Linked DNA regions of Homo sapiens. The protein of the gene in region 3 interacts with the protein of the main gene of each other region in a biochemical or structural test. Each region holds a gene or a part of one and is shown on either strand. Other genes may lie near its edges.

Region 1 (3,751 bases), on a different chromosome or scaffold from region 3:
CTTGAACCCAGGAGGCAGAGGTTGCAGTGAGCCAAGATTGCACCACTGCACTCCAGCCTGGGTGACAGAGCAAGATTCCGTCTCAACAAAAAAAAACAAAACAAAAGCAATATGTATTGCATTTATAACCGAAGAAAAACCAAAGGTGAATCTGATTTCAGAAAAGTAACTTAAGGAAATGTAACATCTAAAAATAAGAGGAAAGTATCAAATCTAAATTTAAATGGGATAATGATAACCCCAGTTTAGTATTTATGGTGATTTTCTTTAAAGAAGAAAGAATCCCTTAGACTTTATGGAGTGCTCTGTGACCGTGTTGAGCTATCTTAAGTGGATCAAAGATGTTCTTCTATTTTTAGGCCTTGTACCTAATAGCAACTAATGGAACCCCAGAACTTCAGAATCCAGAGAAACTTTCCCCAATATTTCGGGATTTCTTAAATCGATGTTTGGAAATGGATGTGGAAAAAAGGGGTTCAGCCAAAGAATTATTACAGGTAAATTTAAAAATGATTTCATTTGGGGGAATAGTTGACTTTTTTGGTAACCGACAGAAAGCTTTCCTAGGGCTAATAAGTAGATTTCACTACTCATTGATCACCAGCGGTATGGCAGCTGCTGCAATTTAGGGTTTCATCCTACCATGCTGAGCAAACTACCGCAAGGACAGAAAACCAAACACTGCATGTTCCCACTCATAGGTGGGAATTGAACAATGAGAACACCTGGACACAGGAAGGGGAACATCACACACCGGGGCCTGTTGTGGGGTGGGGGGAGTGGGGAGGGATAGCATTAGGAGATATACCTAATGTAAATGATGAGTTAACAGGTGCAGCACAGCAACATGGCACATGTGTACATATGTAACAAACCTGCACGTTGTGCGCATGTACCCTAGAACTTAAAGTATTAAAAAAAAAAGTGAGGGTTTCATCTGCTGTGAATAAAATTCTGACAAAACCGTAATGTGCAGTTTGTGCATCGTATCAATCCTCAGACCTGTTTACAGTTTGTGCATCGTATCAATCCTCAGACCTGTTTACAGTTTGTGCATCGTATCAATCCTCAGACCTGTTTACAGTTTGTGCATCGTATCAATCCTCAGACCTGTTTACAGTTTGTGCATCGTATCAATCCTCAGACCTGTTTACAGTTTGTGCATCGTATCAATCCTCAGACCTGTTTACAGTTTGTGCATCGTATCAATCCTCAGACCTGTTTACAGTTTGTGCATCGTATCACTCCTCAGACCTGTTTATTGCTGTTGTGTGTATATTTGTCAAACTAAAATGATTCTGCTTTCATTCAACTCTGAAAGTAATGCGTTGATTATGTTAGTCTTATGAAGGTATTAATATGTGTTTAGTTTATTAAATTATGATCGACAAGTAGTCTTTGGGGCTTAATTGAACAAAATTATTTTGTTTCTAACCTGATGAATGGCACTTATACATTTATTTTTCCCCTTCTTTCTGGCAGCATCCTTTCCTGAAACTGGCCAAACCGTTATCTAGCTTGACACCACTGATCATGGCAGCTAAAGAAGCAATGAAGAGTAACCGTTAACATCACTGCTGTGGCCTCATACTCTTTTTTCCATTTTCTACAAGAAGCCTTTTAGTATATGAAAATTATTACTCTTTTTGGGGTTTAAAGAAATGGTCTGCATAACCTGAATGAAAGAAGCAAATGACTATTCTCTGAAGACAACCAAGAGAAAATTGCAAAAAGACAAGTATGACTTTTATATGAACCCCTTCTTTAGGGTCCAGAAGGAATTGTGGACTGAATCACTAGCCTTAGGTCTTTCAGCAAACAGCCTATCAGGGCCATTTATCATGTGTGAGATTTGCATTTTACTTTGCTGACTTTGTTGTAATAGATCCCATTCATTGTCCCCTTTGGGGTATTTCCAATACTTGAATGGCAGATTGGAGTTTTTCAGAGTATGTGTTTCATCTGCTAGTCTTTCTCTCCTTCATAGCTTTTCTTTTCCTGGACTTGCTCCTTTTGAGTTGCTTTTGCGTTTCTCATGCCTAGGCAAGTGTAATAGAAATTATGTAGCTCCTTATGTTGGCAAAGGAGCTCTATATAGTTTCACTTTGTATAAAAGTTAGGACCAGCTGTTGTTACATGTAATATTTTAGTTCAGAACTTGACCTGAAGGAAGGGAAGAAAAGTATGTGATTTTTACCTTTTTTAACAAATGTGAAAAAGTCAGTTTTAGAAATTTCGTGGTAGTAAGTTCGGCATTTGTTACATGTATAGAGAGAAGACTAATAATCTCTATTTATAACTAAATCATTGAGATAGAAAAAGATTCCCATTGACTGTAGACTTCTTCCCATTTTGTCTTCCCTTCTGCCTGTTTCCCCTTCAGGCTTGGCTCTAGGAACCAAAGTGATTTGTTGTTGTTCCAACCTGGGCTTTGTGACTTTGGTTAGTGCCACTACCTTCTTCCCTCCTTTCCCCCTTCAATTTGGAAATAAATTTCTGTATATGTTGCAATTTTAGGTTTAGGTTTGTTCTTTTTCTTTTTCATTAATCCTCTCTCACCTCACAGATACCCCCTCCCATGGCAAATAATATAATAACCAGTGAATTTTCAGGAATTTAAAAATTAGCTTTTTTCCACTTAAAGGAGAAAAATATTTGGGACTAGCAGCAGAGGCAGTAAGAGATGTGAACCTTGGTGAGCTCTGATACAGTGAGAAGAGATTATACTCATGAAAGAGAATGTTAGTGTTACAGAGAAGCAGCCGATAGCAAATCGACTGTAGAGACTTGGCGGCGGTGGCATTGCCCCAGGTCGTCAGCAGTGTGGTATTATCTATGAGAACTTGAGCGACAGAGTATTTCTTGATGAATTTATAGATCATTTGAGATGTTGAGTTACTTTAGTTTAGTTTTGTTTTGTTTTTTCAAATAAGTAGAGACTATTGTAAAAAACGAGAAAGGAAAATGAAATGTGCGTGTTGATAGCAATAATTTGTTTCTTTTAAAGATTCTAAAAGGTCTGAGACCTGTAGCATTAATTATTTGAGTGCCCTCCCTTCTCCCCTCCCCTCCCTTTTCTCTTCTCTTTTTTCCTCTCCTCTTCTTCTCCTTTATTCATTGTTTTGCTTTTGGAGTGGGTGTTGTTCAAGTATCTGTGGTTTGGTTCTGGCATTTTGTTCCCACCATCCCCTTCCCCCATTAACTTCCCCCCTGCTTGCCATCCTGCAGTAGTATAAATCATGAATAAAAAATAATTTTGCTGTTGTAGTATACATTGGAGAAACTGGCAGGTTTTATTTCCATTATTTTATTTCCACTATATCTATGATAAGATGCAATTATAAGGAGAGAAGTGACTGTTTTTTATTGATAAGGCAAGATTTTCAGAAAAATGAGTAAAATAATTAATGAAACATATTTAGAGCACTTAATGGTCTCTGTTTTCAATATAATTCTTGATTTCATTTTTCTCTGGAATATATTGGCCTTCTACAGCTATTACTGAATTATAGAAACTGGTTTATTTCTGGCAGAAAGCTGCAGTGCCACCTGAGTTCCAAATTTTACCATTCTTTGTAAACAGTTGGATGGATTATGATAAAGAAGATGCTACCAATGAAATAGAAAACCAACGAGATGAGAAGACTGTGATCCTCATGTACTCAGAGGCACTTCCCTCCTAAGTCAAAGACCATCCTCACTGACTATGTGCCAACGCCTCGTTTCAGGCTTGTGACTCAACAAAGGGCTT
Region 2 (3,751 bases), about 43 Mb from region 3:
ATACACATTTACAGACCCAACGTTACAAAACGGCTGTGCTGAAGATACAGAATGTTCCCAGCCCCCTAGAGGCCTCTCCTTGTGCCTCCTTCCAGTTGATACCCCAAAGGCAACCAGTACTCTCACCTCTAACGCCAGATTGTTCTCACCTGCCTTTAAGAAATGAAGGTATTATATATACATACACACAGTGACATGCACTCATCTTAAGAAGACAGTTTGAAGAATGTTTACTTATGCGTGCTCCCATGTAACTACTACCCAAATCCAGGCATAGAACATTACCAGCAGCCCAGAAGGTTCCTCCTCTTGTTCCAGTCAACAACTCCGGCATAGGCAGCCACTCCTCTTCTTCTTCTTCTTCTTCTTATTATTATTACTATTATTAAGACGGAGTCGTGCTCTGTTGCCCATGCTGGAGTGCAGTGGAGCGATCTTGGCTCACTGCACTTTCGCCTCCCGGGTTCAAGTAATTCTCCTGCCTTAGCCTCTCGAGTAGCTGGGACTACAGGCGCGCGCCACCACGCCCGGCTAGTTTTTTGTATTTTAGTAGAGACGGGGTTTCACCGTGTTGCCCAGGCTGGTCTCGAAGTCCTGAGCTCAGGCAATCCGCCCACCTCGGCCTCCTAAAGTGCTGGGATTACAGGTGTGAGCCACCGCGCCAGGCCCACTCCTATTTTTAGCTCCAGAGATTAGTTTTGCTTCAGGCTCCCTTAACGTCCTGCTTCAAACCCCTATCTGCCCCTTCATCGGCTCCACCTGGAGGCCACCGCTTCCACGGAAGCATGACCCCTTCCCCTGCACCCGCGCGCCCCAGAAGCTCTCAGATACCCCCACGATTTCGGTGACCTTCCGCAAGCTCCAGGAAAAGCCCCTCCTCTCCTGACGCCAAGGGTTTGTTGGGGTTGGGGGGTATCTCCATCAGCCTCCCTCCCCCAGCCACCCAAATTAACCAACAATCTTAGTAAATGCAGCGACTCGCTAGGCAAACCCAGCCTGGAGACAAATATCCGGCCCCTTTCCTACCAAACTGTCACACCTAGGCATTGGTCTGCAGGGAGGGCTGGACAGTGGAAACTGAAACCCTCTGCAAGCCATCACGAATCCACCGGGCACTGGGGACGCTGGCTCCCGCCTTGGCAGCATCCCCCAGAAGCCTGGGCCCTGACCCCACACCGTCTGGGCCTCAGTCTCTCATCGGTAAAGTCAGGGGTAGGGCCCGAGTCTTCCAGGACCGCTTCGAGCTGGGACAAGCCGTTTTAAATAGCCCACAACCCGCCGAGGCCATCAGAGCTGCGCCTGCCGGGCCGCCCTCGACCCCCACCTCGGCCGGGCAGGTCCGAGGCCCCGCAGGCAACATGGGCCCGCGGACTGCGGGACGGGGCTCGACGGCCTGAGATCGCGACTCTGCCTCTCCGATACTTGGGGTCGTCTTCGGCCCCGGGATCCGCGACGCGCGCGGTCGGACCCCGAATACTGAAGGCACCGGGTCCGCAGGGCGAAGGCGCACACGCCCACCAGGCGCGCTCTGCGCATGCGCGGGCTCCGCAATCTCAGCGGCCCACTCGCCCCGCCCCGCCCCCCCCACCCCCACCCCGCGCCGCTCCCCAGGCCCGGCCCTGCCTTCCCAGCATCCCGGCTCCCTACGGCAAGCGGCGAGGCCCGAGCCCGCCGGGAGCAGGGAGCCGGGCGCGGGGCGGGGCGGCGCGCTGAGGTCAGCGCGGCGGCGGCCGGCCCCGTAGTGGTTGGCTGCGCTGGTGCTGGCCGCGCCCTGGTTGGCTGCGGGCCGCGGGGCTGGGCCGCCGGGTCGGGGCTGGGGTCGGGCTCGGGCGCCGGCCGGGCTTGCGCAGCGCTAGGCTCCTCGCCGCTCCTAGTCTGCGGCGGCGGCGGCGGGGAGGGCGCGGCCGCGGGCGGGGCTGAGGGCGGCGGGGGCGGGCCGCCCGAGCTGGGAGGGCGGCGGCGCCGAGGGGAGGAGAGCGGCCCATGGACCCGCGGGGCCCGGCGCCCCAGACTCTGCGCCGTCGGGACGGAGCCCAAGATGTCGGCCTAGGCCGGGGCGCGACGACGCGGACGGGGCGGCGAGGAGGCGCCGCTGCTGCCGGGGCTCGCAGCCGCCGAGCCCCCGAGGGCGCGCCCTGACGGACTGGCCGAGCCGGCGGTGAGAGGCCGGCGCGTCGGGAGCGGGCCGCGCGGCACCATGTCGGCCAAGGTGCGGCTCAAGAAGCTGGAGCAGCTGCTCCTGGACGGGCCCTGGCGCAACGAGAGCGCCCTGAGCGTGGAAACGCTGCTCGACGTGCTCGTCTGCCTGTACACCGAGTGCAGCCACTCGGCCCTGCGCCGCGACAAGTACGTGGCCGAGTTCCTCGAGTGGGGTAAGTGCGCGCCGGCAGGGCCGGACCTGCGGCTCTGCGACCCCCGCGCCCCAGCCCGCGCATCCCCACGCCCGCCCATCCCCGCCCGGACAGACCCTGCCGCCCTCCTGCCCACCCAGCTCGTGGGCTTCGCCTCCTCTCGCTCTGGCAGCGCCCCCAGGCCCGCAGCCCATCTCTCTCCAGCCGCTCCTTGCACCCTCGTCCCTCCGCTAGCTTTTCATCCCTCCTTGCCCTCCCTAGGCTCGACATCCGCGTTCGATCGTCCCGCCCCCTCATCCTGCCCCTTGGAGCCACATCCTACGTTCCCACTCCCACCCCCTCCCCCCCGCCGGGCCCTCGCCCTGGCGGCTTCCTAGATCCACCCTCCGAGTCTGGATATCATTTCCTGCAGCACTCACTGGGATATCCGCCCCCGCCCCCGCCCCCGCCCCCGCACCTCGCCTTTGGGGTCCGGAGGCAGTGTGGAATTAGTTCCCTTTCCCCACCCCACGCTTCTCTGCGTTGTGGGGGCAGCTGGGTGTGCTTTCTGCATCTGCCTCGCCCACTGCCCCGTGGGACCCCCTTGCATCCCCAGGGAGCCCAGCTCTAACGGCCCCTCCTGGGTGACAGCCTGTCTACATCCCCTTGTTGGTCAGAGCCTGAATACCTACTTTGCTGTAACACCTTCAAGGGAATTTTAAGGTTAAGGCTTTATTTTAAATAAACCGTGCAAGAGGACTTTTTTTTTTTAATTCCAATTCTGCTAGACCTTTGTGATATTTGGAGGGGTAGCTGGAGCTATCACTTAGAAACTTTCTCATCTGAATTTTGCATGCCTTCTCTAGTTCGTTCCGGATCTATAATGTTTTAATCATTGGTCAGCTAACCTATTATGCTTTTTTAGGACAAAAATTTGATTAAACCATTTAACGATAATTAGGATCCTAAAGACAGGTAAAAGTGCAGCGTGAAACTCTTTTACTTCATCTCTCCCTAACGGGTGTGCCGGTCAAGACCCTCAGACTGTCTCACCTAAAACCACTGAGTAGGAGGAGGAAATGCGTATGTTCAGGCCAAACCTATGAAAACCTTATCCTTGGGTCATTTGCGTCACTGGGCTAGGACTGTTCAGTTCGAACCAGTAATTTCTAATCTTTGGGGCTGATAAAGCTGATATTTATACGAAGAAACAAATGAAAGTGTTCCACAGTGAGGCCTCCAGGCCTCCTACTCTACTCTGCCAGATTGGTGACTGGAATTTGGAATTTTGTTTACAAATAAAACTTAAGTTGCAATATTCTTTAGAGGGCTTCTGTTGGATTACTCTGTAGTGAAATGTTACACGGTATCTTGTGAGAGCAGCAGTAGAAAGAGGTCCTGAGATCAAGGACAGCCTGTGA
Region 3 (3,751 bases):
TATAGCCTTAAAATTAATGTAAAGTTAGGGGAGTAGTGGGGAAAGTAATGTGAAATGTCTCAGATTTAAGTAGTTAAATACCAGCAAAATCTTTTCATTATCCCTCTTATTTTGTGAGGTGATTAAATGTAACTTAATTGTATTTAATTTATATCTTATTCCAGCATGAATGAGGAAAAACTGAAGTACTATTTATATTTAGAAATTCATATCAGTTGAAATTACAGAACCAATTCCATACTTACAATAAATACTTAATGTCTAAATCTGTGGTAGAGTGCGAAGTATGATAATGTTCTAAGTTATGGCTTTGCAAGCATCTAAATGTGCATTTAATGAATACCAGTGCTTCTAGTATAGACTAATTACCAGACATACTGGTACTGAAAGCTAAATCCCTATTATAACAAACCAGTTCCTTAATATTTTAAGTAGACTGACAACTTTAGTTCCAGAAATTGCAAAACTTTGAACTGGACTGTGTAATCTTTTGAGATGCAAAACTTAAGTCACAAGTAGAGTATGTGATGGAAAGCTGTATTTCAAACCATAACAGCATATTTAGAGCCTTTTTTTTTTGAGTCTTTAAACAAGAGAAAATTAAAATATTCCTGTCAAAATTATTAGTATTGAAATTAGGCTTGGACACGAGAGAGAACCGTATTTGAGTGATGTGAGAAGACTAAATCTTTTCCACATGAGTCAGCACTGCCATACTAATAATTTTTTTACTATAAAAATACAGGAAGGAAGTATACATTATAACAGCAGACTGTGTGTGTTCCTGATTCCTGGAGGTAATAGTGGGGGGAAACCAACCATACTTTTTAAAGGCACTTTTGCACCTCTATTGTGCACTTCATTCTTGTACCACTTAAATTCTTCACCCCCATCCCCTTTTTTTGTGCTAATTAGCATCTCAGGGCAATGCCTCAAAAATGTTTGATGTGTTCTGTTCTTTGGAGGGAAAAAGTTCTTATGTGATGATAATATAGTACTCAAAATATACTTTTATCATTTAAATGTCTTATTTGCTGCTATGAATAGGAAATAACATTTTGTATAGCAGGCTCTGTTTTACCCTAACATTAAAAAATTTCACTGATCTTTCTTTCATTAACAGGGTAGAATCTCCTAATTTCCACTTTCTTGGGAATATACTTTTATAGACAATAGAAGCAGTTCTCAATATTAGCATATACTTTAAAAAATCAAAGTGATAACTTAATTCAGCTTTGGAAGTATCTCAAACATATTTTTACTTTATAGTGCATTAACTTGCTTCTAGAGTACTTAATGCAACTGCTCTAGCCACTTAATTTTTTATACTAATCTCAACATTAAGAAATTTGGATTAAGTAATAAATTAGTTATGTAATTCAAGTAATCTGAATTACAGCAGTACTTTTAGTGATCATTCATAGGACTATATATTAACCCAGCTAATAACTCAGTTTTTTTACAAAATGTTTCGAGTATTATTGGTAAAACACTGTTCTAGGCTAAGCACATTGGGACTGTAAAGAAATGAGTAGATCCTTGGCTTCAAGTTTACATCTGGACAATTTATAATCTAGTGTATGTTAGTATTATAACTGGATCACTCATCAAAAAATATATATATATATCTATTGCCCACCTGCTATCTACCAGGTACTTAGCTGATCAAGGCAGGCCCCTGCCCTAAAGACCTTGTTTATACTTCCTTTACTCACCTGAAAACTGTTCTCCAGTTTATTTTCTTCTCTCTAAAGTTAAAGAGTAATTCAGAAGAAAATTTTGCTTAGCATAAGAATAAAATTGGACTGAAGAGGCTTAAGCCCATTCAGTATCCTTGATTGCATTTATCCAACGGCCTTTATTCTTCCTGCTGACAGCAGTAACTCAGAGGAATAGGTAGTAGATTTCTGAAAATTATCCAGCCATGGAAATGTAGGTGGGGTTTGAGTTTAAGGCATTTAAAAATGTAAATATCTCTAGCTAAATTTATCTTAAGTAGAACTCTGTGTTTTTGTAACACACTGCCAGTGTTAATATCAAATTTTAGCCAAATTATTACTATGTGTTTTAATATTTTAAAATAATTTCACTGCCCATCTTTACTGGACAAACTCATTTGGAGTTCAACTTGTGATTTCTGAAAGAACTGATGAAATTGGGTACTGCTTTTTTTCTCCATTTTTCGTTTTGTTTTAATTTTGAATTTCATGGTATATACTTTTAGTTCAAACTCAGCTGTTTGTACAGTATTGTATTAGGATTTGGTATTAGAAAAGATGTGTAAATATCTTAGTATATAATTGTTTCTCATTTGAGGTTTTTCTTCTAAGGGACCTTAAAGAGTTTTATATACTTTTGCTCACAGAAACTGCTGGTGAGATTACCATTTTTTGAGTATCTAGTCTTCTAGTTTTTCTTTTAGGCATTAGGAAGCCTTCTTTAGAGTTCAAAATTTTAGAAGCCTAATTTGCTCTTACTTCCTTCAATTATGTGCCATGTGTTTTGGTTTGTATATGTTTTAAATTGTATATTTCCTTGGAATATGCTTGAAATATTTAAGAATACATTTTCAAAATGTATAATACTGTATTGTTTTGTTGATCAGAATAATAAGTCTCAGTTAAATGTTTGTTATTACTGATAGTCAAAATGCTCAATAGAAATGATGAGAGGCATTGGTTCCAATTCATTGTCAAATGAACGTTTTCTAATTTTGTTCACAGATTCTTTCCCTTTCGATTGTTCTGTATGTTAAGATAGTGGCTTCTGCTCTCACTGTTTTCCTATTTATATTACTAGCAGGTAGGAGTGCTAATTAGAAAAACTTAGATGGTATTGAAATTACAGTTGACAACTTATATTTTTATGAGATGGAGAAAAAAGATTAAGTTGATATAACAACAAAGTGGACTTTTTTTCTTCCTTATCCTGCACGAAATATTGCCCTTGTTTCCTCTACTTTCCTCTTGGTGTTTTCTCTTTTTTTCAAACAGAAACAGGCCAATTCCATTTTCTTGAGCAAGAAAGCTTAGTGTGTTACTTCATCAAGGCCAGCTAATACTGTGTTAAACCGGGCTGAAAATGAGAAAACTTGGGAGATGGAGGAATGGGGAAATGGCAGTGGGATAGGTAGGGAAGGATTACTCTTAATTGTTTTAAAAGCCATAGGAAAGTCTTCCTTGTACGTGGCTGTAAATTTATAAGAACTATTGTGTCACATAAACCAACAAGAATGAACCTTTGCTGCTTCAGATAATTTGATTTTTCCAGCAAGGAAATTAATAAGTTACTGATTCTTCAGCATAGAAACAACTGAGAAGAATTAATGCAATGTTTCTTCACTAGAAAACCCAACCCTTCATTTCTTTTCATTGCTCCAAAACCCAGTTTTCAACTAATGGTTTTCTCATTAAACTAAATGTTTAGAAAAGTTGTTTAGAGTTTTTCTTTTTCTTTTACATAGTCCTCCTGATCCAGTATAAGACTATTTAGTAACGTGCATTTGTATGGTACTATCTAAAGTAAGTTAGATTGATGTAAGAGATCGGGTAGCTGCGGAACAAAATTAGTTATATCCTAATTAGGTACAGTGAATGACACAAAATCATTTTAGCAATGCTTCTTAACCTTTTGGGGTCACAGGCGTTTTGAGACTGATGAATCCTAGGGACTTATTTACCCAGGAAAATGCGTATATAACATACATATCTCCCTAAAGTTTACAATATTGTAGTGGTTCATGGGCCCCCTG

What was found.
Region 1: of the proteins of PPM1A (region 3) and PAK2, one has a biochemical effect on the other in vitro, tested with the Homo sapiens proteins (one study listed by BioGRID).
Region 2: of the proteins of PPM1A (region 3) and CDC42BPB, one has a biochemical effect on the other in vitro, tested with the Homo sapiens proteins (one study listed by BioGRID).

Annotation. Positions count from the first base shown.
Region 1 is NC_000003.12:196,826,837-196,830,587, forward strand, and holds part of PAK2 (serine/threonine-protein kinase PAK 2), read left to right. Parts: intron 1-359; coding exon 360-497; intron 498-1,482; coding exon 1,483-1,569; 3' UTR 1,570-3,751. UniProt on the Homo sapiens protein: Serine/threonine protein kinase that plays a role in a variety of different signaling pathways including cytoskeleton regulation, cell motility, cell cycle progression, apoptosis or proliferation.
Region 2 is NC_000014.9:103,055,620-103,059,370, reverse strand, and holds the start of CDC42BPB (serine/threonine-protein kinase MRCK beta), read left to right. Parts: upstream 1-1,821; 5' UTR 1,822-2,197; coding exon 2,198-2,372; intron 2,373-3,751. UniProt on the Homo sapiens protein: Serine/threonine-protein kinase which is an important downstream effector of CDC42 and plays a role in the regulation of cytoskeleton reorganization and cell migration. Regulates actin cytoskeletal reorganization via phosphorylation of PPP1R12C and MYL9/MLC2.
Region 3 is NC_000014.9:60,294,147-60,297,897, forward strand, and holds part of PPM1A (protein phosphatase 1A), read left to right. Parts: 3' UTR 1-3,751. UniProt on the Homo sapiens protein: Enzyme with a broad specificity. Negatively regulates TGF-beta signaling through dephosphorylating SMAD2 and SMAD3, resulting in their dissociation from SMAD4, nuclear export of the SMADs and termination of the TGF-beta-mediated signaling.